Homo sapiens: one gene and its partner. The protein of the gene in region 1 purifies or fractionates together with the protein of each later gene. This does not show direct contact. Each region holds a gene or a part of one and is shown on either strand. Other genes may lie near its edges.

Evidence for each region.
Region 2: the proteins of TRIM10 (region 1) and ZMYM2 purify together in Homo sapiens (affinity purification with mass spectrometry; 4 studies listed by BioGRID and IntAct, with this or other methods). This does not show direct contact.

The regions. Positions count from the first base shown.
Region 1 is NC_000006.12:30,151,443-30,154,827, reverse strand, and holds the end of TRIM10 (tripartite motif-containing protein 10), read left to right. Parts: intron 1-341; coding exon 342-859; 3' UTR 860-1,056; coding exon of another isoform or gene 1,057-1,140; 3' UTR 1,141-2,885; downstream 2,886-3,385. UniProt on the Homo sapiens protein: E3 ligase that plays an essential role in the differentiation and survival of terminal erythroid cells. May directly bind to PTEN and promote its ubiquitination, resulting in its proteasomal degradation and activation of hypertrophic signaling.
Region 2 is NC_000013.11:19,965,227-19,968,726, forward strand, and holds part of ZMYM2 (zinc finger MYM-type protein 2), read left to right. Parts: coding exon of another isoform or gene 1-55; intron 56-3,062; exon of another isoform or gene 3,063-3,176; intron 3,177-3,500. UniProt on the Homo sapiens protein: Involved in the negative regulation of transcription.

The DNA.
Region 1 (3,385 bases):
CAAGCTGGCACGCACAGCTTTGGAAACCAGCCAACTTGCGGTGAGCAGAAGAGCTTTCCCGAGGACCACACTGAACTAAACGAGAGCTTTCACATCCTCTGAGGCAGGCTTTTCAGGCTTTACCTGTGTGCAAATCACCTGGGCATCTTGTTAGGATGCAGATTCTGAGAGCGTATATCTAACAAGTTCCCAGGTGGTTCCACACTGTTGGCCCACGTAGGCACTATACATGTTTTTGGTAATAATAACACTAACAGGAGGGGCCCAGGGGGAGTTTCTATGCCTTCCTTGGAGGTAATAGCATGTCTGCTGACATCTGTCCCTTTTGGTTATCCCCACAGCTCACATTTCTCTAGACCCTCAGACTTCCCACCCCAAGCTCCTCTTGTCCGAGGACCACCAGCGAGCTCAGTTCTCCTACAAATGGCAGAACTCACCAGACAACCCCCAACGTTTTGACCGGGCCACCTGTGTTCTGGCCCACACTGGCATCACAGGGGGGAGACACACGTGGGTGGTGAGTATAGACCTGGCCCATGGGGGCAGCTGCACCGTGGGCGTGGTGAGCGAGGATGTGCAGCGGAAGGGGGAGCTTCGGCTGCGGCCAGAGGAGGGGGTGTGGGCTGTGAGGCTGGCTTGGGGCTTCGTCTCGGCTCTGGGCTCCTTCCCCACACGGCTGACCCTGAAGGAGCAGCCCCGGCAGGTGAGGGTGTCTCTTGACTATGAGGTGGGCTGGGTGACCTTCACCAACGCTGTCACCCGAGAGCCCATCTACACCTTCACTGCCTCCTTCACTAGGAAGGTCATTCCCTTCTTTGGGCTCTGGGGCCGAGGGTCCAGTTTCTCCCTGAGCTCCTGAGAAGGAGCAGTTACCTACTCTCCTCTAAGTACAGGACTCATATCAACCCAAGTACCATGTGGACTTGATCCCTGGCTGAATCACCTGGATGACTTGGAATAGAAATGACTGCTTTAGAAGATGGGATGGGGCCGGGTGGTAAGGGATAGAAGAGAGGACTCTCAATCTACTGATCAAGTCCTTTCCCCAATGCCCAGTGGATGGCCAGGGTACCTGGGGACTCAGGCTGCTGCCAGTTCTGCTCACCACCATCCGTGCTTGGCACAGAAGTAGCTGCATAGAAAGGGCACTGGATTTGAAGTCAGAAGACCTGGGTTCTTGAACCAGCCTGTCAACCAGTTGTATGACTTTAAACAAGGCATCTCACCTCTTTTCATCTTGTTTTCTTCCAATAATGTTAGAGTTCATGTAATCACATTCTCTAGAACCATTTAGTTTGTGTTAACTATGAACCAAGCAGTGTGGTGGCCACTGGTGACTTGAAAATATAGAGAAAAAAAAAACCTGCTCTATATCTGAAAGAGCTCTTGGGAAGACAGAGAAACATAAAGAGGAAATTACAGCACAGTGTGGTGGGTGTTACGGGAAGTCCAACCCCAGCATTATGGGAGTTCAGGGGAAGGGGCATAGCCCAGCCTGGAAGGAGAGGGTGAGTGGGGGATGGCTTTCTGAAAAGGGTGGTCTAAAGGATGCCTATGGTCAATAGGGAAAAGAGGGGAAGAAGCATCTTAAGAAGAGGAAACAGCAGAGAACTGGCTGGATGACCTGTGACTCTGGAGCACTGGGTTGTCTCCATTGTCATTATGGGCAGATGTGTGCCATCCCCAGCCGACGCCACTCACTGCCTCCTTCCTCCTGGTGTTGCCACTTCTGGGTGAGATTAAGGTGCAGGGCCTGGGGGCAGGAGGACATAAGGTATAGCCATAAATCATAACCCAGGGACCACACTCAACCCTAGGGAAATTGTCTTCCTGATCAGTTGATTACCATCTGAGGTCAAGAAATGAGATAGTGGGAGCAAATGGGTCACAAATAGCTCAGCTGTGGGCTCAGAAACTGCTAGGTAAAAGAATTCCAGAAGGAGGCCAGGGCATAAGTTGGATGACCTATGAACTTTAGTCTAAAGAATTGAGACTACCGTAATTGAGACTACTGTAGTGACATCTGAGAAATGGGATGGAAGAGTGACCATGTTTTATTTTCTTGTTCTTGTCACTATTGTATTTTATTTTGCATAATCATGCCCTTCACTGACAGTCTCCTTAACATCATCTGTTTACTCTGCTCAGTGTAAACTACAATGCTCTGTCATCTCCCTACTGGGTCTCCTGGGAGGAGGGGAGCCATCCAGGGTGCAAACTCAAAGGCAGAGGGCACAGCGTGCTTAGGCCCAAGCTTAGAATTCAATTGAGAAGTTCTGTTGTTCATCCTTACCTCAGCAGGTAGAAAAGAGGTGGAGATCAGAAGCCAGGGATTAGAGATTGAATTGCTTTCCCTGGGAGTGTGCAGTATCTCATTAAAATGTTGTATATTCAAAAAAATACAGACACACACAAGTGCCTATATAATGATAAAACATATCCAAAGCACCCAAACCTGTGATTCCAGAAAAGTAGATCCTATTTTTGTTTATTTTTATTGGCTTTAGCTGTGTCTTTTGAAAGGACTATTATCCTCTAAAATGTATGTGTATGAAGATCCTGGCTTGCAGCTCGGGAGCTTTACACACCTTGTGTCACTTTATCTTGGTAACGAGCCAAGATCATGCAACCAGTTCATCCATGTCTGACCCAAGAGCTCTTAACTGCTATGCTGCACTGCCTCATTCAGAGATAGATGCCTGCATGGGTCCTGGCGATTATTTTAATGCTGGCTACACCCCCACAGGTGACTTGGATTCAGAAATACAATTTATATTTCTTCTTTTTAAATTGTTTTATTTTATTTTTCTTTTAATAGTTATATGTCAGTGAGAACAATTTATATGTCTTACACTGAGAAATAAAACTGCTCATAAGTGAAAACACTCATGTTGGTCTGTCAGTACCTGCTTCTCCCCTAGGGTAATTTTACTTGAAGTTTACTTGCTTTCGGAGTATGGAGTCAGCACAGGGGAAGTGGATAGATCCTAAAACCTGGTAACTTCAAGATAAGGCAGCTTAATGAACCTCCTTGCTCTGCTGGCCGGAAGTGGGACTCTGGGTTCCCTCCCCAGGAAGTGCTCAAGTCTAGAGGCCCCAGAGTCCCAGCTACCCTTTCCGACTCTGAAGGACTGTTGCACATTTGTAACATCCACAGTTTACACCTCATTTTTCAAAGCTTACATGGTAGCAACCCTTTCTATTGCAAAGAACTGAGACCCACTCAAGTTAGTTCAAATGATAGGTAAGTTTATTATAAAAGCAGAAATAAGGAAAATGCGATTTTCCACCATGAGCCAGGCCCCGTGAGAAGCTATGTCAGGCGTGAGCGAGTTGGTGGGGTCACCACTCGTTCCTGTAGGAAGAACTAGAGATTCCAAAAATG
Region 2 (3,500 bases), on another chromosome or scaffold:
TGTGTATATTACTCTCTGCCGTAGTCACCTGGATACCATCTCTGGACTTACTAGTGTAAGAATTGACAACTAAATTTTTGGGTTTTGTTACTTAACATTAAAAAATGACTTCTCTTCTAATACTGGAACAGTTTTATAATCATTCATTTCAAAGAGGTATGTCTTTTTCCTAGGAAGAATAGTGTTTCTTGGAATATCAAGTTGGACTAGACAGAGTGTTCAGGGTAATAATCAGGGGACTGATTTAACAAATTGGATATTACAACACCTGTTATATATTAGATAGTCATAAAATATGTGTTCTGTTAATTATGGGCTAGCAGTTTCTTTGGCTCTGCTTGGAAGAGCATTTCATCTAGACTTAGTGAATTGTGTTTCTAGTTCTATAGAACTAAGGAAAGGTTTGGGTGGAAGTGAAAATATAAGTTAAATGAAAATTTTATTTTATCCTCCTGTTTAGATTTGTACTTTTTTTCGTTCCAGGCTTGTCATATCTTATTTTAATCATTTTAATTATTTCTGGCCCTGATATGGTATCTGAATTCTTTTTTTTTTTTTTTTTTTTGAGACGGAGTCTTGCTGTGTTGCCTAGACCAGAGTGCAATGGCATGATCTCAGCTCACTGCAACCTCCGCCTCCTGGGTTCAACTTGAAGCAATTCTCCTGCCTCAGCCTCCTGTGTAGCTGGGATTACAAGTGTGCACCACCACACCTGGCTAATTTTTGTATTTTTAATAGAGACAGGGTTTCACCGTGTTGGCCAGCTGGTTTTGAACTCCTGAACTCAGGTGATCCACCTGCCTGGGCCTCCCAAAGTGCTGGGATTACAGGTGTGAGCCACCGCACCAGGCCTGAATTCTTATATATTTATAATTCTATATTTGCTTGTTTTTTTTTTTGTTTTTGTTTTGTTTTGTTTTGTTTTGAGACAGAGTTTCTCTCTTGTTGCCCAGGCTGGAGTGCAATGGTGCAATCTCGGCTCAACGCAACCTCCGCCTCCCGGGTTCAAGTGATTCTCCTGCCTCAGCCTCCTGAGTAGCTTGGATTGCAGGCATGAGCCGCCACGCCTGGCTAATTTTGTATTTTTAGTAGAGATGGGGTTTCTACATGTTGGTGAGGCTGGTCTTGAACTCCCGACCTCAGGTTATCTACCTGCCTAAGCCTCCCAAAGTGCTGGGATTACAGATGTGAACCACTGCACCAGGCCTGAATTCTTATATGTCTATAATTCTTTTTTTTTTTTTGGATACAGAGTTTTGCTCTTGTTGCCTAGGTTGGAGTGCAATGGTGTGATCAGGGCTCACCGCAGCCCCTACCTCCTGGTTTCAAGCGTTTCTCCTGCGTAGCTGGGATTACAGGCATGTGCCACCACGCCGGGCTGATTTTGTATTTTTAGTATAGACGGGGTTTCTCCATGTTGGTCAGCCTGGTCTTGAACTCCTGACCTCAGGTGATCTGCCTGCCTTGGCCTCCCAAAGTGCTGGGATTATGGTCGTGAGCCACCGCGCCCAGCCTGCTTGTTTTTTTACCTAAAGAAAAATTTGCACTTGTTTTAATTAGTTATAGGAAAATCATGATTATAAAATTTAACAAGTTTTAGCTTTATAACTTTACTATGAATATTGTCTCACTTTATTTTGATTTTTGTCTGTCTTATTATTGTATAGTCCTGTTTCTTAGCCAAATAAGTGTTAACTCCTGCCTAGGAAGTCATTCCATCCTATGTCTCTGTACGGTTTTACATTGCTTATGGAAGAGAAGCTTCTGTTCCAGTTAGTCTCTCTTCCATGACACAGACTCCTGACTTCTGTTATTTCATGTTTTCTTTATTTGTATATCACATTTTCCTTTTTCAAGGACCTTACTCTTCTGTTTTCATTCAGTCTTCCTCCTGGACTTACCTGTTCATTTGTCTTTCCTTTTCCTAACTCCTTTTGCTTTTTTTAAAAAAAGAGCACAGTATCTGTAATAGCATCCTATATAAAAGTCTGATTATACTGTCCTTTTAGGGGGTATGTTTCCAAATTACAGTAAACTCGTGAATTTGGTGAGATCATGATATGTGAGTATGGTTCTAGAGATATATGAGGGCCTCACATGGAAAGGGAACTAGTGAGTACTAAGAGAAGATTGGAAGGGTAACGACTTAATTTTGCAGATTTTCTGCCAAAAAAAGCCATTTTTCTCATTGTAGCATGACATGAGTTGGAGTCATACAGATTCAGGCTTAAATCTGCCCTGCTCATGAAGGGAGTTTTGGGGTGATAGAGTGTTATATAAAACTGGATTGTGGTGATTGTTGCAGAAGTATATACATTTAATACATTTATCAAATCTTTCACTTAAAATAAGTAAATTTTACTACACGTACATTATGCTTTAATATAACTATTAAAAACAATTTTGCTCCAGTATTTACCAGTTTGCGATATCAGGCAAGTCATGTAACATCTGAGCTGTAGTTCAGTCAGTTAACAAATGAGTATGGTAATGCCTGGTTTCCTGAGATTGTTGAGGTGAGGACTAAAAATAATACAGGGTATGCAGCTGGCCAATAGTAGGTGCTCAGTTAATAGCAGCTGCAATTCTTAAACTGTCTGTTTATATGGACCAAACATAATGAATTTGCTGCCACCACCTGGTATGGTAAACTTAGTGTGTGCTTATCTGGTAATGACTAGAAGAATTTCTATGTTTCTCTTCACCGACTTCCCTCTTCTGGCTTTTTCATTAGTCTGCAGTGCTTTATCCTCCATCGAGATAAAAATGCTTTATCCTCCAGAATCTCTGCATCTTTTTCTAACGATTTCTTCTTTTCCCTATACTTTTAGAAAGAAATCCACTGTCTGATCTGCACTGTCAACACTATAACAAATCTCTTCTGAGGTCGCTAGTGACCTAATTGCCAAATCTTTTAACTGCTTCTTTTTGTCTTAATTCTGTAACATTTAAAATTTTTGCTTCTGGGGCTTAATGTGGTCTCATAGTTATGACCACCTCCTTCACTTCCCCTCGCTAGACTTTCCTTTTTTTGAGCCAGAGTTTTGCTCTTCTTGCTCAAGCTGGAGCGCAATGGTGTGATCTCGGTCCACTGCAACCTCCGCCTCCCGGGTTCAAGCGATTCTCCTGCCTCAACCTCCCGAGTAGCTGGGACTACAGGTGCACTGGGATTACAGGTGCGCGCCACTGTCCCTGGCTAATTTTTTTGTATTTTTAGTAGAAATGGGGTTTAACCATGTTAGCTAGGCTGGTCTCGAACTCCTGACCTCAGGTGATCTGCCCACCTTGGCCTCCCAAAGTGCTGGGATTACAGGCGTGAGCCACCGCACCAGACCTCCCCTCACTAGACTAATGTTGAGACCTTTAAGTGTCCTTTACTGTCATCTTTAGCTCTTACTATGCTTTTAACTTTCACCTTAGTCTGTTAGAAAACGGAATTATTTACAAGGCAGTTTCTTCCTATTCTTGACTCCATTGTAGCCAGATTAATTTTTCCTAAA